3 linked regions of the Homo sapiens genome follow. The protein of the gene in region 2 purifies or fractionates together with the protein of the main gene of each other region. This does not show direct contact. Each region holds a gene or a part of one and is shown on either strand. Other genes may lie near its edges. The genes, in order: GLG1, KLK2 and SERPINE2.

Evidence for each region.
Region 1: the proteins of KLK2 (region 2) and GLG1 purify together in Homo sapiens (affinity purification with mass spectrometry; 2 studies listed by BioGRID and IntAct, with this or other methods). This does not show direct contact.
Region 3: the proteins of KLK2 (region 2) and SERPINE2 purify together in Homo sapiens (affinity purification with mass spectrometry; 3 studies listed by BioGRID and IntAct, with this or other methods). This does not show direct contact.

The regions. Positions count from the first base shown.
Region 1 is NC_000016.10:74,604,025-74,612,108, reverse strand, and holds the start of GLG1 (Golgi apparatus protein 1 isoform 3 precursor), read left to right. Parts: upstream 1-4,994; 5' UTR 4,995-5,014; coding exon 5,015-5,452; intron 5,453-8,084. UniProt on the Homo sapiens protein: Binds fibroblast growth factor and E-selectin (cell-adhesion lectin on endothelial cells mediating the binding of neutrophils).
Region 2 is NC_000019.10:50,869,042-50,876,492, forward strand, and holds the start of KLK2 (kallikrein-2 isoform 1 preproprotein), read left to right. Parts: upstream 1-4,397; 5' UTR 4,398-4,432; coding exon 4,433-4,478; intron 4,479-5,679; coding exon 5,680-5,839; exon of another isoform or gene 5,840-5,925; intron 5,926-7,430; coding exon 7,431-7,451. UniProt on the Homo sapiens protein: Glandular kallikreins cleave Met-Lys and Arg-Ser bonds in kininogen to release Lys-bradykinin.
Region 3 is NC_000002.12:224,029,262-224,036,363, reverse strand, and holds part of SERPINE2 (glia-derived nexin isoform b precursor), read left to right. Parts: intron 1-4,885; exon of another isoform or gene 4,886-5,388; intron 5,389-6,156; exon of another isoform or gene 6,157-6,292; intron 6,293-7,102. UniProt on the Homo sapiens protein: Serine protease inhibitor with activity toward thrombin, trypsin, and urokinase. Promotes neurite extension by inhibiting thrombin. Binds heparin.

The sequences.
Region 1 (8,084 bases), on a different chromosome or scaffold from region 2:
TCATGATAACTAATCACAAAAAAAAAATGTTCCATTGGGAGGATGGGGATTGGTGAAGATTAGAGCCACCATTACAGACCTAAAGAATGCAAATGTGGTTCTGAAAGATGGTGGAGAGTGAAAACTTTTCCAAACTAGTGGAAATGCTGGCTGTGCTCTTAGTCATTCCACTTTGTATGTAAGATGAGAATATATACAGATTCCTGGACAAAGTCCAATGGCCTGGCCTGGAGTAGAGGCATGTGGATGAACGTGTGGGGGTGAGTACAATATATAAAGATTTTTGTATCTCTTAATAATGCCCTCCAGAAAGCCTCCACCATAGAAGAGGCACTGAGCAACCAAGTAAGCAAAATGACACAGCCAATTCACATGAGCTAGCCTCTAGCTCCTCCTGACCCGACATTCTGGGCACGTGAACAGAGCAGCCATAGCAGCAGACATGCAGGTTCCATGTGAGCTCAGTAGCATGGACTCCCACTCACCAAGGTACATCCAGCTACTGCTGCCCCTGAATGTCCAACTTGTCAGCAACAGAGAGCAACACTGAGTCTTTTTTTTTTGGAGACAGAGTCTTGCTCTGTCGCCAGACTGGAGTGCCCTGGCGCAATCTCGGCTCACTGCAACCTCTGCCTCCTGGGTTCAAGCGATTCTCCTGCCTCAGCCTCCTGAGTAGCTGGGATTACAGGCGCACGCCACCACGCCCAGCTAATTTTTGTATTTTTAGTAGAGACGGGGTTTCACCGTGTTGGCCAGGATGGTCTCGATCTCTTGACCTTGTCATCTGCCCGCCTTGGCCTCCCAAAGGGCTGGGATTACAGGCGTGAGCCACTGCGCCCACCCTGCAACACTGAGTCTTTGATAGGCACTGTTTTTTTTTTTTTTTTTAGACCGAGTCTCGCTCTGTTGCCCAGGCTGGAGTGCAGCGGCGTGATCTCTGCTCGGAGCTGCAACCTCCACCTCCTGGGTTCAAGAAGTTCTCCTGCCTCAGCCTCCGAGTAGCTGGGATTACATCCATGAGCCACTGCGCCTGACCCCCTTTTTTTTTAAATTTTTTAATTTTTTTATTTTTCTGAGACAGGATCTCACTCTGTCACCCAGGCTGGAGTGCAGTGGCATAATCTCAGCTCACTGCAACCTCCACTTGCCGCTTTCAAGTGATCTTCCCGCGTAAGCCTCCTGAGTAACTGGGACTATAGGTTGCACCATTATGCCCAGCCAATTTTTGTATTTTTAGTAAAGGCCTGACCTCAGGTGATCCACCCGCCTCGGCCTCCCAAAGTGCTGGGATTACAGGTAGGTGTGAGCCACCATGCCTAGCAGGCCTTCATTTTGAATGCTTATTCCCACCTCCTTAGAATCTTGAACTAGTTATTAATGTCTGATTTTGGAACACTTAGAGTCCTCTTTTCATGGTTGCACTTGGGAGGCCGAGGCAGGCAATCACCTGAAGTCAGGAGTTCGAGACTAGCCTGGTCAACATGGTGAAATCTCTCTCTACTAAAAATACAAAAACTAGCTGGGCGTGGTGGCAGGCGCCTGTAATCCTAGTTACTTGGGGAGGCTGAGGCAGGAGAATCACTTGAACCCGGGAGGCAGAGGTTGCAGAGCTGAGATCATGCCATTGCACAGCAGCCTGGGCAACAAGAGTGAAACACTCCATCTCAAATAATAATAATAATAATAATAATAATAATAATAATAATAATAATAAAAGAACAAATTCTCAACAGCCCAGGTGCAGGGCTGACACCTGTAATCCCAGCACTTTGGGAAGCTGAGGTGGAAGGATCACTTGAGCTTGGGAGGCTGAGGATGCAGTGAACATGATCATGCCATTATATTGTAGTCTGGGTGACAGAACAAGACCCTGTCTCAAAAACAAAAAAAAATACTAAAATTACAAAAAAAAAATAATTAGCTGGGCGTGGTGGCACACACCGGTAGTCCCAGCTACTTAGGAGGCTGAGGCGGGAAGACTGCTTGAGCCCAGGAGGTTGGGGCTGCAGTGAGCCACAATTATCATGCCACTGCACTCTAGCCTGGGTGACAGAGGGAGACCCCGTCTGAAAACAAACAAGGAAAATGCTCATGGCTGGGCCCGGTGGCTTATCCCTGTAATCCCAACACTTTGGGAGGCCAAGGTAGGTGGATCCCTTGAGGTCAGGAATTCAAGATCAGCATGGCCAACATGGTGAAACCCCGTCTCTACTAAAAGTACAAAAACTAGCCGGTTGTGGTGGTGCACGCCTGTAATACCAGCTACTTGGGAGGCTACAGCAGGAGAATCGCTTGGACCCAGGAGGCGGAGGTTGCAGTGAGCTGAGATCACAACACTGCACTCCAGCCTGGGTGGCAGAGCAAGACTCCGTCTCAAAAAAAAAAAAAAAGAAAATGTTCAACAGATACCTGCTTGATGAATAAATTAAGAAAGTGAGGATCAGGAAACAAAGGATACAATAAAGGGTAAAAAGAACTCCCCGTTTCTTGGCTGGGCACAGTGGCTCATGCCTGTAATCCTAGCACTTTGGGAGGCCGAGGAGGATGGATCATAAGGTCAAGAGATTGAGACTCTCCTGGCCAACATGGTGAAATCCCGTCTCTAAAAATACAAAAATTAGCTGGGCATGGTGGCGCACACTTGTAGTCCCATCTACTTGGGAGGCTGAGGCAAGAGAATTGCTTGAATCCGGGAGGCAGAGGTTGCAGTGAGCCGAGATCGCGCCACTGCACTTCAGCCTGGCGACAGTGTGACTCCTCTCAAAAAAAAAAGAAAAAAGAATTCCCCGTTTCTGATAGAGATAGTATATGTTATATTGAAAAGGCAATGAGACCAGAAGACCTGAGTTAAGGCAACTGTCTTTCCGTGGGTTTGGGGGCTCGTGGCTTCCGTAAGGTCTACGCTTGCCTGACAGCCTGAGCTGGCCAGGTTCCCAGATTTATCTGTTTCTTGCTTCTTGGTGACTGAGATTTCAAGATAGCCATGTGTACTCCTCCCTATCTCTGGAGGCAATCTGTGGCTGTGGTTTCCTCAGTTCAGGCTGAAAGATAAGTAACTGATGGCTTATCTAGGATTGTCAATTTCTAGTTAAACTGGCTTAAAATAATCTCCCACTTGTCTGAACACATGCAGACTCAGCATTGAAAATTAATGGAGGCCAGGCGCAGTACCTCACGCCTGTAATCCTAGCACTTTGGGAGGCTGAGGTGGGCAGATCGCCTGAGGTTTGGGGTTCGAGACCAGCCTGGCCAACATGGCAAAACCCCGTCGCTACTAAAAATACAAAAATTAGCTGGGTGTGGTGGCACATGCCTGTAATCCCAGCCACTCGGAGGCTGAGGCAGGAGAACTGCTTGAACCCAGGAGGTGGAGGTGGCAGCTCCGAGCAGAGATCACGCCACTGCACTCCAGCCTGGGCAACAGAGTGAGATTCCGTCTCAAAAAAAAAAAAAAAAAATTAACATACGCTAGTGACATCTCAAGGACTTCTGGTGATGTGTCCAGCCTGCCTGACTGAAACTTACCTATGCCATGTGTTTGCTAATAAACATGGGGCTGCCTTAGTCAGTGCTCAAGGTTAGCAGCAGCCTCATGATCATTTTATGACAGTAGCAAAGGTGACCGTTGGTGGAGATGCCAACAAGCTCTCATTCCCCATGATAGAGGCCTGGGGTCAGCCACAGTGGGTAATTTGTACTCACAGAATATCTTCAGTCTCAGGAGCTCCTTTTGGGTTCCCTGAGCTCCTGACTTTTCAGGTTCTAGTTATGTCTAACTTGGTCTTGACTGCTCATTTGCGGGTCAGGACAGCAGAAGCTGTCTGTTTACTACAGTAGATGTAATTCGCATTTTTGGACACAATGACCAGTGGAGATTACACAACCCAAACTGCCCTCATTCCCCAACATGTGCATGGACAGAGTGGGATGAAAGTGCGCCAGGGTGGTGGGAAGCCCCAGGGATTCTGGTGGCTAGCCTAGCTGTCTACAGGATGGCAGAGTTCCTCTTGGGCAGCTCATTTAATCCCTCCACGCAGAACTGTTAACATCTCTGTGCCATTCTTCAGTTAAATGAGAACCTAACGCAGGCCTGATGCATGGCTCAGATTACACAGCGGATGTGAAGAGGCTTTGGGAACATATCCTCTCTCCTAAGGACAGGGAGGGGATGCTAGTGTGGGGTGCCTGCGGTGTTGCATGCAGGTCAATGAGAACAGTTACCGACACACAGACTTAACCCGAGTCCTCAAAGATGTGTTTTATTATTATTTTTTCATCCTTTAAACATGAATCTAAATGCTGGCTTAAAATCAGGATTCATGCATAAACGGCTTCCCAGTTTATTAACAATACTGGCTGTGACTTTTTGAGTTCAGTGTTGTGGGCCAGGCACTTAAATTATTATTTCGAATCTTGCCAATGGTACTTTACATTTGAGCTCTTGCGTACCCTGCCAGAGCAAGGATTATAACCTTAATTTTTTTTCTTACCCCAGAACTTATGCTCTTAACCCTATTCAATGCTGTCTCTCTCTTTGGCTAAGAAAGACTTCTGAGGCAGATGGAAGGAAGGAAGGAAGGAGGGAGCGATACAAGGAGAGGCTTTCCGATTCCGTAATACACCTGGTTGTGCAAAGTTCACCTCTACATATAAAGTTTTTGTTTTCCAAGTCATTGAACCGGCGACATATTCTACCGGCCATTTTGGTTGTGGCAACCCCAATTCCCTTGATTTTTTTTTTTGTGACAGCAAATGGAATTAGAGTAGGCCGCCCTGCCCGGGCTTTTTAAGAAACCCCAGCAACCCCCCCGGGTAAGGAGCGCCGCTCTCCCGCCCGCCGGTCCAGGGTGTGTGCGGTTTCCAGCACGGCCTCCTCCTTCGCCCCACTCTGGGTTCGCGGGTCGGCGCCGGCGGGGCGGGGCTCGGCAGGGCCACGCTGCCACGCCCAGCGTCTCCACCCCCTCATTTAAATACGCGGCGCCGGCGAGTGCGTCGAGCTCGCCGCGGACTCAAGATGGCGGCGTGTGGACGTGTACGGAGGATGTTCCGCTTGTCGGCGGCGCTGCATCTGCTGCTGCTATTCGCGGCCGGGGCCGAGAAACTCCCCGGCCAGGGCGTCCACAGCCAGGGCCAGGGTCCCGGGGCCAACTTTGTGTCCTTCGTAGGGCAGGCCGGAGGCGGCGGCCCGGCGGGTCAGCAGCTGCCCCAGCTGCCTCAGTCATCGCAGCTTCAGCAGCAACAGCAGCAGCAGCAACAGCAACAGCAGCCTCAGCCGCCGCAGCCGCCTTTCCCGGCGGGTGGGCCTCCGGCCCGGCGGGGAGGAGCGGGGGCTGGTGGGGGCTGGAAGCTGGCGGAGGAAGAGTCCTGCAGGGAGGACGTGACCCGCGTGTGCCCTAAGCACACCTGGAGCAACAACCTGGCGGTGCTCGAGTGCCTGCAGGATGTGAGGGAGGTGAGGAGGTGGGACGAAGCCGGGAGGGCCAGGCCTGGTGCGGGCCCGAGGGTGTTGCCGGCCTTGGAAGCCGCTGACGCCGGTCGGCTGCTTTCCTTGCTTCCTCTGTGCTGCACTCGCTCCTTCCCTCTTTGCTCCTCACTCCCAGGCGCTTTCAGGGAAAAGGATACCACTCCCACTCCTTCTTTCCCCCGCCCTTATTTCCCTCCCTGTTGCCGGGGTCTGGGACGAAAACCTGGGCTCCTGGCCGCAATCCGCCGAGGCCCAGAGCGTGTCTGTTCGCTCCTGTCTTTTGTGTGATGCTCTATGCAGAGTGTCTCCTCGCCGAAGATCAGTTTAGGATTTTGCCATCAGTTTCGACTAGGACAATTTGTGGCAAGCCATTTAAACATAAAAAAATGCCTGGCGTACTTAGGCTGTAAAGAATGATCTGTTTATTAGCAGTAGATGTAATTCGCAAATCCATATTTTTGGTGCTGAAATTAATGTATGCTTTGTTTTCTTCACTTCCTTTGGTCAGTTGTATTGAACCCCATGTTTAAGCTGTTAACTCCCAGTGACTTGGCGCCCCAAAGCTTGAAAAGTTGGGGAAGCGTTTGAAGCTGTGTTTGTGACTGGGTTATGGGATCTTGCCTTTCTGAGGTCTGAATGTGATTTTAACAGTATCTCTTAATGAAATCTACATTTGTCGTTGCTTGGTGTGATTCAGTTGAGTGACATTGATAATTTATAATCAAGTGACATTGATAATTTATAATCTAGGTTTAATGCTGCAGACCATAATGACAATTCTCAAAGTTTGGGAGCAAATCTGACAGTAGTAACTTTTTCCAGAGGTGTAGGTATATAAAATTAGCCCTAAAGGTGGACAAATAGAATGAAGCTACCACTTGATACTGTTTTTGGTTTTTTTTTTAAATATCAGATTTGTTTAAGGCGTTCAAGCTATAGCAAGACCACTTGCTTGTAGAAATTTGCTTCTCTTGGCATTTCCCCCCTTCATCTCGTGTTCTAGTATTCTATACAAAAGCAATTCAGATAGAGGAAAAGACATACATAAGCAGGAGACAGAAAGAAAGGAAGTTTCCAGAGCCCCTAGAAATGTGAGGCCTTACCTGACTTCTCATCTTCAGCTTAACGACTAGAGGGATAGTCCTCTGGTAGATACAGCTAATATTCCTAACTCTGTCGAACTTTTTGGAATTTTCTTTTCGCTCTTTGAGGACACATAATAGATGTCGTTTCATCAAACTAGGATCCTAATACTGGTGACCAAACAATTAGTAGTAGTTTGTGGTAGAAACAGCACATTATTAGGGAAAGTGGCAAAAAGTGGCCTATTCAAGGAGTGTATATATCCTTCATGTGTATTCCGGACATTTGGAAACCTCCACTTAAAGGAGGCAGTTTTATGCTCCAGAGGAGGAAAGGCGTCATATAAATTGGAAATGGGGGTTTTGGGGGGTTGGGGGGAGGTGGAGGGACCAAATTTCCAATTTAATGTTTTTTCCTCCAGTTTTTACATACAGAAATAATGAAGGAAGAGTACTGTGAACACCTATGTGTATTCTTCAGGAGGTGGAGTTATTTTTAAACTTCTTTTCTTTTTTTTGAGATGGAGTCTCACTCTGTCGCCAGGCTGGAGTGCAGTGGCTTGAACTTGGCTCACTGCAACCTCCACCTCCCGGCTTTAAGCAATTCTGCCTCAGCCACCTGAGTACCTGGGACTACAGGCGAGCGCCACCACGCCCAGCTAATTTTTGTATTTTTAGTAGAGACAGGGTTTCACCATGTTGGCCAGGATGGTCTCGATCTCCTGACCTTGTGATCTGCCAGCCTCGGGCTCCCAAAGTGCTGAGATTAGTGGTGTGAGCCACCACCCCCACCCTATTTTCTTTTTCTTTAAAGACAGCGAAAGGAAATTTCATTCTGCTTAGTCTGGGAGTTAATTAAATCTGATCTATGTGTTTGAAAGAGCATAACTTAAAGAAGTAAACTAGTTAGGCACATTTGAAGAAACATGTATAGAATATGTTTTGTATTTGCTGTTCAGTAAGTAGAACTATTTGATAGTGAAATAGATATATGTACTTTTCTGTCCCTTTGCATGCAAATGCAGGGAACATTTTCCTATCCGTACCCATTATTGGAATTATGAAAAGGCAGAGCATATGAGTACAGTTGTTCCTTGGTATCACTGGAGGATGGTTCCAGGCCTCCTGCAGATATTGAAATCCAAGGACGCTCAAGTACCTTATACCGTATAAAATGGTGTCGTATTTCCATATCATCTGTGCACACCCTTCCGAATTCTTGTCTTCTCTAAAATACTTGTGATACCTAGTACAGTGCCTACATATCAGTTCATTCATGTGGATTCACTGTAGTACTTGGCATATGTCAAACTTAACTTTTGCTTTTTGGAACCTTATGGAACTTTTCTTTCTGAAAAAAAATTTTTTATTATGGAGACAGGGTCTCGCTCTGTCATCCAGGCTGGAGTGCAGTGGTGCAGTCATAGCTCACTGCAGCCTCAGTCTTCTGGGTTTGAGAGTTCACTGAAGCCTCCACATTCCGGGTTCAAGTGATCTTCCCAGCTGGGCTTTCCAAAGTGCTGGGATTAGAGTTGTGA
Region 2 (7,451 bases):
GGGATGCACTTTCCTTGACCCCCTATCTCAGATCTTGACTTTGAGGTTATCTCAGACTTCCTCTATGATACCAGGAGCCCATCATAATCTCTCTGTGCCCTCTCCCCTTCCTCAGTCTTACTGCCCACTCTTCCCAGCTCCATCTCCAGCTGGCCAGGTGTAGCCACAGTACCTAACTCTTTGCAGAGAACTATAAATGTGTATCCTACAGGGGAGAAAAAAAAAAGAACTCTGAAAGAGCTGACATTTTACCGACTTGCAAACACATAAGCTAACCTGCCAGTTTTGTGCTGGTAGAACTCATGAGACTCCTGGGTCAGAGGCAAAAGATTTTATTACCCACAGCTAAGGAGGCAGCATGAACTTTGTGTTCACATTTGTTCACTTTGCCCCCCAATTCATATGGGATGATCAGAGCAGTTCAGGTGGATGGACACAGGGGTTTGTGGCAAAGGTGAGCAACCTAGGCTTAGAAATCCTCAATCTTATAAGAAGGTACCAGCAAACTTGTCCAGTCTTTGTATCTGACGGAGATATTATCTTTATAATTGGGTTGAAAGCAGACCTACTCTGGAGGAACATATTGTATTTATTGTCCTGAACAGTAAACAAATCTGCTGTAAAATAGACGTTAACTTTATTATCTAAGGCAGTAAGCAAACCTAGATCTGAAGGCGATACCATCTTGCAAGGCTATCTGCTGTACAAATATGCTTGAAAAGATGGTCCAGAAAAGAAAACGGTATTATTGCCTTTGCTCAGAAGACACACAGAAACATAAGAGAACCATGGAAAATTGTCTCCCAACACTGTTCACCCAGAGCCTTCCACTCTTGTCTGCAGGACAGTCTTAACATCCCATCATTAGTGTGTCTACCACATCTGGCTTCACTGTGCCTAACCAAGATTTCTAGGTCCAGTTCCCCACCATGTTTGGCAGTGCCCCACTGCCAACCCCAGAATAAGGGAGTGCTCAGAATTTCGAGGGGACATGGGTGGGGATCAGAACTTCTGGGCTTGAGTGCAGAGGGGGCCCATACTCCTTGGTTCCGAAGGAGGAAGAGGCTGGAGGTGAATGTCCTTGGAGAGGAGGAATGTGGGTTCTGAACTCTTAAATCCCCAAGGGAGGAGACTGGTAAGGTCCCAGCTTCCGAGGTACTGACGTGGGAATGGCCTGAGAGGTCTAAGAATCCCGTATCCTCGGGAAGAAGGGGCTGAAATTGTGAGGGGTTGAGTTGCAGGGGTTTGTTAGCTTGAGACTCCTTGGTGGGTCCCTGGGAAGCAAGGACTGGAACCATTGGCTCCAGGGTTTGGTGTGAAGGTAATGGAATCTCCTGATTCTCAAAGGGTCAGAGGACTGAGAGTTGCCCATGCTTTGATCTTTCCATCTACTCCTTACTCCACTTGAGGGTAATCACCTACTCTTCTAGTTCCACAAGAGTGCGCCTGCGCGAGTATAATCTGCACATGTGCCATGTCCCGAGGCCTGGGGCATCATCCACTCATCATTCAGCATCTGCACTATGCGGGCGAGGCCGGCGCCATGACGTCATGTAGCTGCGACTATCCCTGCAGCGCGCCTCTCCCGTCACGTCCCAACCATGGAGCTGTGGACGTGCGTCCCCTGGTGGATGTGGCCTGCGTGGTGCCAGGCCGGGGCCTGGTGTCCGATAAAGATCCTAGAACCACAGGAAACCAGGACTGAAAGGTGCTAGAGAATGGCCATATGTCGCTGTCCATGAAATCTCAAGGACTTCTGGGTGGAGGGCACAGGAGCCTGAACTTACGGGTTTGCCCCACTCCACTGTCCTCCCAAGTGAGTCTCCCAGATACGAGGCACTGTGCCAGCATCAGCTTCATCTGTACCACATCTTGTAACAGGGACTACCCAGGGCCCTGATGAACACCATGGTGTGTGCAGGAAGAGCGGGTGAAGGCACGGACTCCTGTGTGGTCAGAGCCCAGAGGGGGCCATGACGGGTGGGGAGGAGGCTGTGGACTGGCTCGAGAAGTGGGATGTGGTTGTGTTTGATCTCCTTTGGCCAGATAAAGTGCTGGATATAGCATTGAAAACGGAGTATGAAGACCAGTTAGAATGGAGGGTCAGGTTGGAGTTGAGTTACAGATGGGGTAAAATTCTGCTTCGGATGAGTTTGGGGATTGGCAATTTAAAGGTGGTTTGGGATGGCATGGCTTTGGGATGGAAATAGGTTTGTTTTTATGTTGGCTGGGAAGGGTGTGGGGATTGAATTGGGGATGAAGTAGGTTTAGTTTTGGAGATAGAATACATGGAGCTGGCTATTGCATGCGAGGATGTGCATTAGTTTGGTTTGATCTTTAAATGAAGGAGGCTATTAGGGTTGTCTTGAATTAGATTAAGTTGTGTTGGGTTGATGGGTTGGGCTTGTGGGTGATGTGGTTGGATTGGGCTGTGTTAAATTGGTTTGGGTCAGGTTTTGGTTGAGGTTATCATGGGGATGAGGATATGCTTGGGACACTGGATTCAGGTGGTTCTCATTCAAGCTGAGGCAAATTTCCTTTCAGACGGTCATTCCAGGGAACGAGTGGTTGTGTGGGGGAAATCAGGCCACTGGCTGTGAATATCCCTCTATCCTGGTCTTGAATTGTGATTATCTATGTCCACTTCTGTCTCCTTCACTGTACTTGGAATTGATCTGGTCATTCAGCTGGAAATGGGGGAAGATTTTGTCAAATTCTTGAGACACAGCTGGGTCTGGATCAGCGTAAGCTGCTCTGGTTTTATTGAACAGATGAAATCACATTTTTTTTTTCAAAATCAAAGAAATCTTATAGAGTTAACAGTGGACTCTTATAATAAGAGTTAACACCAGGACTCTTATTCTTGATTCTTTTCTGAGACACCAAAATGAGATTTCTCAATGCCACCCTAATTCTTTTTTTTTTTTTTTTTTTTTTTGAGACACAGTCTGGGTCTTTTGCTCTGTCACTCAGGCTGGAGCGCAGTGGTGTGATCATAGCTCACTGAACCCTTGACCTCCTGGACTTAAGGGATCCTCCTGCTTCAGCCTCCTGAGTAGATGGGGCTACAGGTGCTTGCCACCACACCTGGCTAATTAAATTTTTTTTTTTTTTTTGTAGAGAAAGGGTCTCACTTTGTTGCCCTGGCTGATCTTGAACTTCTGACTTCAAGTGATTCTTCAGCCTTGGACTCCCAAAGCACTGGGATTGCTGGCATGAGCCACTCACCGTGCCTGGCTTGCAGCTTAATCTTGGAGTGTATAAACCTGGCTCCTGATAGCTAGACATTTCAGTGAGAAGGAGGCATTGGATTTTGCATGAGGACAATTCTGACCTAGGAGGGCAGGTCAACAGGAATCCCCGCTGTACCTGTACGTTGTACAGGCATGGAGAATGAGGAGTGAGGAGCCACCGGAACCCCATATTGTTTAGTGGACATTGGATTTTGAAATAATAGGGAACTTGGTCTGGGAGAGTCATATTTCTGGATTGGACAATATGTGGTATCACAAGGTTTTATGATGAGGGAGAAATGTATGTGGGGAACCATTTTCTGAGTGTGGAAGTGCAAGAATCAGAGAGTACTGAATGCCAACGCTTCTATTTCAGGAACATGGTAAGTTGGAGGTCCAGCTTCTGGGCTCAGACGGGTATAGGGACCAGGAAGTCTCACAATCCGATCATTCTGATATTTCAGGGCATATTAGGTTTGGGGTGCAAAGGAAGTACTTGGGACTTAGGCACATGAGACTTTGTATTGAAAATCAATGATTGGGGCTGGCCGTGGTGGCTCACGCCTGTAATCTCATCACTTTGGGAGACCGAAGTGGGAGGATGGCTTGAGCCCAGGAGTTGGAGACCAGCCTAGGCAACATAGCCAGACCCTCTCTCTACAAAAAAATTAAAAATTAGCTGGATGTGGTGGTGCATGCTTGTGGTCTCAGCTATCCTGGAGGCTGAGACAGGAGAATCGGTTGAGTCTGGGAGTTCAAGGCTACAGGGAGCTGCGATCACGCCGCTGCACTCCAGCCTGGGAAACAGAGTGAGACTGTCTCAGAATTTTTTTAAAAAAGAATCAGTGATCATCCCAACCCCTGTTGCTGTTCATCCTGAGCCTGCCTTCTCTGGCTTTGTTCCCTAGATCACATCTCCATGATCCATAGGCCCTGCCCAATCTGACCTCACACCGTGGGAATGCCTCCAGACTGATCTAGTATGTGTGGAACAGCAAGTGCTGGCTCTCCCTCCCCTTCCACAGCTCTGGGTGTGGGAGGGGGTTGTCCAGCCTCCAGCAGCATGGGGAGGGCCTTGGTCAGCATCTAGGTGCCAACAGGGCAAGGGCGGGGTCCTGGAGAATGAAGGCTTTATAGGGCTCCTCAGGGAGGCCCCCCAGCCCCAAACTCACCACCTGGCCGTGGACACCTGTGTCAGCATGTGGGACCTGGTTCTCTCCATCGCCTTGTCTGTGGGGTGCACTGGTGAGATTGGGGGGATAAAGGAAGGGGGGCGGGTTCTGACTCTTATGCTGAAGCCCTTTTCCTCCCACCCAGTGCCCCAGCCTCGTCCCTTCAGCCCACAGTTCAGCCCAGACAATGTGCCCCTGACTCTTCCACATTGCAATAGTCCTCATGCCCACACTAGGTCCCCGCTCCCTCCCACTTACCTCAGACCTTTCTCTCCATTGCCCAGCCAAATCCCTGCTCCCAGCTGCTTTACTAAAGAGCAAGTTCCTGGGCATCTCTGTGTTTCTCTTTATGGGGTTCAAAACCTTTCAAGGACCTCTCTCCATGCCACTGGTTCCTTGGACCCTATCACTGGGCTGCCTCCTGAGCCCCTCAGTCCTACCACAGTCTACTGACTTTTCCTATTCAGCTGTGAGCATTCAACCCTGTCCCCTGGACCTTGACACCTGGCTCCCCAACCCTGTCCCAGGAAACCCAGATTCCACCAGACACTTCCTTCTTCCCCCCGAGGCTATCTGGCCTGAGACAACAAATGCTGCCTCCCACCCTGAGTCTGGCACTGGGACTTTCAGAACTCCTCCTTCCCTGACTCTTTGCCCCAGACCCGTCATTCAATGGCTAGCTTTTTCCATGGGAAAAACACGAGCACCCCCAACCACAACGGCCAGTTCTCTGATTCCCTAAATCCGCACCCTTTTCAAAACCTCAAAAACAAAACAAAACAAAACAAAGCAAGAAACAACTCAGGCAGAACTGTTTGCTTAACCTTGGACATGGTAAACCATCCAAAACCTTCCTCTCCCAGCAACTAAACCTCTCCACTGGGCACTTATCCTTGGTTTCTGGAACCTCTTATTCTCTTAGAACCCACAGCTGCCACCACAGTGTCCCTTCTCCCAGTGTAAGACCCCAAATCACTCCAAATGACCCAACCCCCAACCCGATGCCTGCTTCAGATGTTTCCCATGTCCCCTACTCTGATCTCTGGGGTCAGCTCCGTTCTCAGAGCATGAAGCCTCCCGACCTGGTCCAGCCACCAACCCGCTAACGCAGGGAATAGCTACAGAATTGCCAGCCCTCCCAGGACCCCTTGCTTGTGTCCTGGACTCCCAGTCCTGGTCCTCTGCCCCCATGTCTCTTCAAACCCACAGCTCAGCTCCCTCCCCTATCCAATTCTTTTGGGTCTGATCCCCCTGACCCAGCACCCCCTCCGCAGGTGCCGTGCCCCTCATCCAGTCTCGGATTGTGGGAGGCTGGGAGTGTGAGAAGCATTCCCAACCCTGGCAGGTGGCTGTGTACAGTCATGGATGGGCACACTGTGGGGGTGTCCTGGTGCACCCCCAGTGGGTGCTCACAGCTGCCCATTGCCTAAAGAAGTAAGTAGGACCCTGGGATCTGGGGAGGGAATGGCTGTGTCCCACAGGAATAACAGCGGGATGCTTCCCCCAGGGTCACTTCTCAGGTGAGGCTTCAGACTAAAGGAGAGAGGGAAGGTCCTGGCCCAGGTCGCACCCGGAGGCAGAGCTGGGGCTGGACCACTCTCCCCATGGCTGCCTGGGTTTCTCTCTGTGTCTGATCTCGCTGTGTCTCTTGGTATCTGGCTCTGGTTGTGTCTGTATGACTGTGTTTTGGTCTCTATGTCCCTCTCTCTTTTCTGTCTCCCTGTGTCTGTGTCTCCCCCGTCTCTGTCTCTGGGTCTCTCTGTGGCCATCTCTGTCACCGTGTGTCTCACCCTGCATCTCTTTGCCTGTCTTTCTCTCTGGGTCTCTGCCTCAGCCCTTCCTCATCACTACTGAACACACCCCGTGAGGGTGGGTGGGGAGCACCCAGAAAAAGGAAGGACTTTAAGCTCAATGTGTGTGCATGTGAGGGGGTGCCTGTCATTGCACAGCACTCTCTGCAGGACATCCCTCCACCCTGGGGAGACACAGGGAGGGCTGGTTTCAGCTGTAGCTGGGTGCACAATTGAGGAGGGAGGAAGGAGAAGGGGAAACAAGAAAGGAGGGGAAGGTGGCCGGGCACGGTGGCCCACGCCTGTAATCCCAGCACTTTGGGAGGCCGAGGTGGGTGGATCATCTGAGGTCAGGAGTTTGAAACCAGCCTGGCCAACATGGCAAAACCCCGTCTCTACTAAAAATACAAAAAGTAGCCAGGCGTGGTGCTGCGCGCCTGTAATCCCAATTACTAGGGAGGCTGAGGCAGGAGAATCGCTTGAACCCGGGAGGGAGAGGTTGCAGTGAGCCGAGATCGTGCCACTGCACTCCAGCCTGGGTGACAGAGCAAGACTCCATCTCAGAAAAAACAAACAAACAAACAAACAACAAAAAAAATCGAAAGGAGGGGAAGGGAGCTGGAGAGAGAAAGGGGGACGTGGCCCTGAGCTGTGGGCCGGGCCACCCGCCACTACAGAGCCCTCACTCCAGCCCCAGCTGCAGGTGAGCCACCCTCATGCCTCTCCTCCTCCCCCTGCTACTCCACACTCCTCAGATGCCCCCGTGGCCTCCCTCCTTTTTCTCTCCCACACTGTATCACCCCTGGCTTCCTCTCTGCTGTTTCTCCTTCTCTCTCTGACTTCCCGCATCCTTTTCTCATTTGTCTATTTCTCACTCCCTTCCTGGTTCTGTTCTTTCTCCCTTCCTCTTCCCCATGTCTATTTCTTGCTGTCTCTGTCTCTTCTTTGCTCATCCTAATTCTCACTGTTCTCCCTTCTGTTTTTGTCATTCCTCTGCCATTTTATGCTCTCTCTTTTCCACTTCGTTTCTTTCAGTTTCTGTCTCTGCCTCTCACATGATCACACTCCTGTTTTCTAACTCACTGTCTGTATTTCACCACGACTATATCTCCCCGACCCCTGTGCTTTTCTCACTGTTTCTTTTTCTTCCCTTTGGAGTCTCCCTTATCCTCCCCTGCCCCATCTACCTTTCCCCATTTTCTCTCTCCTCATGCATCCACCCCCTTCCTCCCCAGGAATAGCCAGGTCTGGCTGGG
Region 3 (7,102 bases), on a different chromosome or scaffold from region 2:
CTTTCTGATGGTTTTTTTTTTTTTTTCCATCCCTGGTTGCCACCTTCTGGTTTTCCTTATTCCTCCCTGGCATCTCTGCTACCTCTTGGGGTTACCCAGGGTTCGCTGTCATCCCTTTTGTGCTCTGTGTATTTGGGTGAACCATGTTCCCACAGCTTCGACTCTCACCAATATGAAGCGAGTCCCAGATTGGCATGTTAAGCTAGCTTGAGCATGCTCCTGTGTTCCAATCAGTTACCTGCAGTCTGGTGCGCTTACCCGTGCCCTTTAGGCCAAAAAAACACCCCAAAATAAATCCAAAATTGATTTTAGTTTTCACCACCCACCCCATATCCGCTTCATTGTTAGCGAAGATTTGTCCGTTTTTTTTTGGCAGTGGTTCCACCGTTCATGGAGATGTTGGAGCAGGGGTCTCACGGTGATGCCAGGCTCCCGCACTGCCCACATGCAGGCTGTCACCAGATCCTGTTGCTTCTTCATGCTGTGAAATTCCACAAAGGTCCGCTCTAGTCACGCTGGCCTTGCCTTGCTTTAGAGCCCAAAAGTGGCAAAATGGTGGCCGGTGTGCCACTTCTAGCAGTAGGCAGCAGTGTTGTTGGCCTGAACAAAGTATATACAACTTGAGTTAATATTTAGAAATCTGGAGATGCCACTTGGATGTATAGCTTCTCCTAAAAGCCAGAAGACCTGGATGAGGCAGTGCGTGGTGGCTCATACCTGTAATCCCAGCACTGTGGGAGGCTGAACCAGGCGGATCACTTGAGGTCAGGAGTTCAAGACCAGCCTGATCAACATGGTAAAACCGCGTCTCTACTAAAAATACAAAAATTAGCTGCGCCTATAATCCCAGCTACTCGGGAGGCTGAGGCAGGAGAATCGCTTGAACCCGGGAGGCAGAGGTTGCAGTGAGCTGAGATGGCGCCACTGTTCTCGAGCCTGGGTGAAAGAGTGAGACTCTGTCTCAAAACAAAAACAAAAACAAAACAAAAAAAACCTGGAATAGGAAGCTTACATTCCCATGTGGCAAACCTCAGCTGCTGCTGGGTTTCCAGTGCCTGAATACACTGGAGGTAGGTTGCTTTCTGGTTCCCCCAGACCTGTGACCCTTGCTTATAGTGGCGTTCTGGCTCCCATGGGCTTCAGAGCTAGAGACCCTAGGCTGAGACGATCATCGACAGCCTGGGAATGCCTAGTGCTTACTGCACAGTGTCGTGCACCTCATGTTGCATCCCTTCTAACTCTCTTCCATGTTATTGCTGGTGTGACTTTCCTCCTGCTGCCCCAAATCCAAGTCTTCTTGGGTCCCTCCTAATAAAATTCAATGGCTCCCTCTTGATCTGGGCTTAAATCCCTGACTCTAAAGGAGTGGCCATGTCATATCACAAGTTTGGTATCTCAAGATTGAAAGATGAGCTCTCCGCTATCTTTATACAGTGTTGTACCCGAGTTTCTGAAGATGCTTTTGAGCTTCTGTAGGGTAGTTAATACAGAGTTCTAGTGTTGATGACAGTCCTGCTGTTTACAAAGCATTTCTACAAGCCTGACTACTGCCCCACTTCCTCGCAGCCCCCCTGGGTGGAGATAGGGCAGGGTCGATTCTATATCCCAAACAGCAGTGGGGAGTCTGTAAATATGGAGGCATAGGCCATCCCAGGGAGTCCCCCACCCTTGGAACATGGGGAACCTTGTTTTACATGTGGTATCCAGAGTCATACAGTGTGTTCCTGAGGTCATTTAGACACCTTAGGGCAGAGTCTTGACCCAGAACTCAGTTCCTGTCAGCATGCAGCCAGGGAACTTTCCACAGTGCTCCATGGGCTCACCAGGCTGCTGGCCATTTGTAATGACCCAACAGAGTCAAAGCTTTCTTCACTCCCTTCCCATCTCCTTGCCTTGTCCCCTGCCTGAAACATTCTTTTCTTGCAAAACTGAACCTCCCGTAAACTGCACTGGTACCGCCCAGTGCTTTTCTGCCTTTGCTCCTTCTGTACCTCTGCCTGGAATTCCCTTTCTCCTCCTGTGTTCATTGTCTGGCTGATTTCTCCTTTTTCAAGACTCAGGCTCAAAAAGGCCTTGCTGGCAGTCACCACCCCAGCCCTCTGTGGCACATGTGCAGTGTACACACACGTCACCCCTCCCCGTGCCTACCTCAATGATGGCAGTTTTTTGTGTTGTAGCAACATGCCCTATCCAGTAGACTCTAAGCTCCAGAAAGACGTGCCTGTGTTTTAGTTTTATTTGCACCAGCGGTGGTGTGTGGCCCAAAGGCAATTAACAGATGTCTGAACTAAACCATATTCATATTTTTTGTAAGTTTACTGCATGCTTTATGGAAGAGTGTTTGTATTCCAGACTCAAAGGGGAGCTCTCTCTGCCAGACCTCCAGCCCTCATTTTGGTACTAGCAAATTTAATATATATCCTCAGACATTTTAAATTTTTGATTAACCTTGTCTTTTGAGATAAAACATTACTTAGAGAAAAGCGGAAGTCTAATACAGAAGCACTTGTGTGCCTGTGTTCACTTCAGTTATCCTCATCTGAACCTCCCTTTGGCATGGTTCTGCCCTCCTTGAGGTCTGTTGGCTGGGCTGCACTCTGCATTTCGTGGTTTTACAGGGTAGGAGAATGCATTTTGGTTTATTTCTATTAACTTTGGTGATGGTGATATATGACCTCTTGGTGACTTTTTTTTTTTTTTTGCCATGGAACTTTTTTGGCTGGTATCGTCAGTCACATTTGGTGGAAAGAGCAGGCTGGGAGAGGGTATGGGCTGCACCACCAATAGAGCGTGTAGGTTACCATCTAGAACTCAGTTTCCTTGTCTGTATAATGGGTATATTGAAATAAATGATCTAAAAGGTGTCTTATTTTTAAAACCTATAAATTCTTGGCTCAGTTTCCTTTTGATGTGGCTTTCTCATAAGTGTTAAGTCTAGATAAAATTTTTTCGTAAATGCATTATCCTGTGCTCATACACCTTAAAGTTCTTGTCTCTCACTTTTTTAAGCCTATAAAATCATTCAGCATTATATTCAGAAACAGCATCATGGGCCAACATGAAGATTTAGTTTGTATTCCCACTTAGAGCATTTATAAAAATTTTAAATAAATTAGGTCCCATATACTTGAATCTTGTCAACCTGTTCTCCACACATAAATGTGCCCATCTTCTCTTTGCAAACCATCTTTCCTCATGAGTAGATTGCACGCCTAATCTGAAAACCAATGTTGGGTTTTTAAAAAATACCCTTAGATACAGAATGGAGTCAAATGCAATAAACTACATCTTTAGGTTATCTCTTGTCTGCAAGTTCCCAATTTAAGAATACTGAGAGATTAGTATGATTTTATTTCTCTTTTGAGAAATACCACCTCCCATCCAACAGGCCAAGTCTATTTCTACAGTCAGTGAGTCTTGCCTTTATTCTGCTGTTAGATTTCTAGGTCTGGATGTAAGCCCAGTCCAGGGAAGTCGGCATCCCTTCTGGGATTCTTTCTGTGCATGAGGATGGCCACTGAGCCCAAGCAATCCTCTATTTGTAATTCCACTCGTATGTTTTGGCAAACATGTCCTAGGATTCCTCCAAAGGTTGGGGTGGACACCCTAGTTCAAGATTAGATCAGGAACACCCAGGCTTTTGCCACAGTTTGACGTAAGACATTATCCTTTGCTTCAGAAGATCATTTGAGAATTGGAATTTACATCCATTGTGCCTTTCCATTTTTCTTATTTAATTCTTTGAAGAATAATATGAGGAGACTTTAATATAAAAGAAAAAATCCCATCAAGAGTCAGAAAGGATTTCCTGTTACGGCTGCAAATCTTGGTAAATGCACTTTGTTTTTGTAAACCGTGCCCCACCCCCAACCCCTAGTGTGAACTCGTAACCTGGGGAATTTCTCTTGAGAGCATACCAAAAATAGCATCAGTGCCTTCTCTTACCCCTACCCCAACTTTCGCCCTCCATGTAGTTCCAGCAAATATAGCTATAGAAAAAATAACCACTTGTTTTTATCCTAAGTTTTTATGGGCCAAATCTTGAAGGTGGATGTGGGTATGTGAAAGAGTTTAATGCCAAATACAAAGCCCACTCGGAAATGAATAAGGTGACTACAAATGAAAATGGATGTTTCTTTCTTCCTTTGGGGAAAGTGCTATGTAAATAAAGGCAATGTTTGCTTCCTCTACTAAAATTTATTTCTGCAGTTTTTAAATAAGAAATCCACTCAAGAAGTTATTCTTACTGAGGATTTGGTCACTGTTAAGATTATAGGAACTATTAACTACTGCATTATCTTTTGCTTACAAGAGAACAAACCCAAATCAAAATAACTCGGAAACAAGGCGGAGAGCTGTTGGCTGACACTGCCCACTCAAGCATGGGAGAGGTGACTCTGGCCCTGAAGATGACTGGAACCAAAGACTGAGGACTTGGAGGCTTTCTTCTCTTTCTCCTTGCCTCTCATCTCTGCTTCTGTCTGCTGATTGTGGTTGTCCTCTCCGGGACCATGACTGTAGGTAGCTCCAGGCTTACCTCCCTACAGCCTCCTCAGTGAGGAGGAAAGAGGGGCTTTTCAGCCAGTTCCAGCCGGCGGGGGGGGTGGGGGGTGGAAATCCTAGGGAGGAATTCTGATTGGCTTAGTTTCAGTCACATGCTGTTCGCTGTACCAATGGCTGTGGGCAGAGGAGTGAGGTCCTATGATTGGCTGATGCTAAGTCACATGGTCACATGCTCGTCCCGATACCAATGGCTGTGGGCAGAGGAGTGAGGTCCTGTGATTGGCTGATGCTAGGTCACGTGGTCACATGCCCTTCCGTGTACCAATGGCTGTGGGCGGAGGAGGGAGGTTCTATGATTGGCTGAATCCCAAATCACATGGTCAATCCTTGGTTAGGAGGAAAGGGAGTGGAGAGGACCGTGCTGCCTGGCGTTCCCCAGCTGCCTTTCTTTCTGTTTTCCCCCCAACGGAATCTCTATGTGGTCTCCTAGAGCCTCGTGCCTGCCTCTCAGCTAGATGCTGATATCATTCCCACTCATGTAGTTGGGAAGGAAGGGTGTGGCAGAGATAAAGGGTCCACGGTCACGCAGTATGTGGGGGGTCACACAGCCTGTATGCCAAAGTGGCACACCCTGTGAATATGTAGGGTCGCACAGCCTTTATGTGTCAGTGCCAGAGCCTGGACCCGGGTCTGTAGATGTGTGAACCGTGAGCTGATACCATGGATATTCAAAGATTTACATCCCATCAATGTTTATACCTTCTTGAGAAGAAATTTGTGTCAAAGCACACTCCTCCTTTCAAGACTACCTCCTCGCCGTGCTGCGTGATAGCCCTAGTATCACAACCAAAACACATGATACAGAAAGAGGCCAGTATCTGTGTGGTACGTTTGAATCATGGTTTTATGCCTTTGGCCCCCTAGTTCCTTCCTCAGACACTTGTTTTTTTCTGGGACTGAAATCTAAAATTAGTACTGACCTTTGGATTGAGAAGGTAGAGAGATTTACACAAGAGTCCAAGCGAATAACTTAAGCTGAGCTGGATAAAACTCAGCAGAATCACAGAACAAGTGTGCCATGACTTTTCAAACATGCCTAATTGAACTCTGTTTGCGATTTAACTTCTTTTTCAAAGGTTTATAGTTACCTTTATTTCAAAATTTGTCATTTTAAAATATGTGTTTCCTCCTTTTCCTCCACTGTATAGTAATTAAGAGTGTGGAGGATTTGGAGGCCAGCGGGCTTTGGTTTGAATCTAGAGGCTACATATTGGAGGGTATGAGCCAAAGCCAAATTTCTAAACATCTCCAAGCCCATCCGTGAGTTGGGCCTAAAGGTGTTTAGGCTTAAGGGCCACCCCTGAAGTGTTGTGAGGATGAAGCGAAGAGTATATCTTAGGCGCTAAGCACAGTGGCAGGAATGGAGCTGACTTTCGGGACACGAGGTGGCTGTGGTTGTGGCATTGGGTAATATTTGTCACAGAAGTACAGGTGAGCACTTCTCTGAGACTCATGTCTTCCTCGTGTCTTTGGCCTGATGAATGAGTGACTTGCTCTGTGTCTTTGCATGCTTTGTTTCCAGACACCTTTCCTGCTGCACTCTCAGTGGGCAGTACTCCCCAATGATCACCTGGTCATCTGTCCTGCCCGCAGGCTTCAGGCTCTTGTGCGTTGGCCATGAAGCAAAGGAAGGCTGTTGCATGAAATAACCTCCTTCTGACTCCACCCTTGCATTTGTGAGATGTAAACAGCAGTGTTACCAAGAGGTCTTCCAGGGAACACGTTGCAGGTAGCCCTGTCATGCTGGCTGCTTTTTTCCATTAGGTTAGTTGTGAATAACGAATAAATGTCTATGCAGGGCCAGACATGTCTATGCTGGCTCACGCCTGTAATCCCAGCAGTTTGGGAGGCTGAGGTGGGCAGATCACTTGAGGCTCGGAATTCAAAAACAGCCTGAACATAGTGAAACCCTGTCTCTACTAAAAATGCAAAAAATTAGCTGGGCATGGTGACGCACGCCCGTAATCCCAGCTACTTGGGAGGCTGAGGCATGAGAATCACTTGAACCCCGGAGGCGGAAGTTGCAGTAAGCAGAATTGTGCCACTGCACTCCAGCCTGGGTAACAGAGGGAGGCTCTGTCTCAAAATAAAACAAAACAAAAAATGTCTATACAGTAGGAAAAATAATCTATTTGGTTTAATATTTAGGTCTCTGCAAGGGTAGCATCCAGAGGCTTCTCTTTTCATTCTTGTTTTTCTGACTGTGAAAAAATCATTCTACTGTGTCCAGTGATGTCCAGATACCAAGAAATAACTATTTTAAACATATGGTGAATATTGTTAAAGCACATGGTGATGGTCATTTAATTATGATTTGATTCCGTCAATATGCAAAAGAGTTCTAAGAATGTTGGGTTAACCTTAGCAAGCATTCCCAGATAGGAAATGTGTTTTCTGCTACCATTGATAGGATTTTTTTAAGGATTTTACTGGCAGTTATCCACTTTGGACTTCATACAGCAGTCTGAGTATATGCCCACACCTGAGTTGTTGCTCTAACAGTGAGATTAGGGGATGCCAGGGAGAATCTGTGTGATGA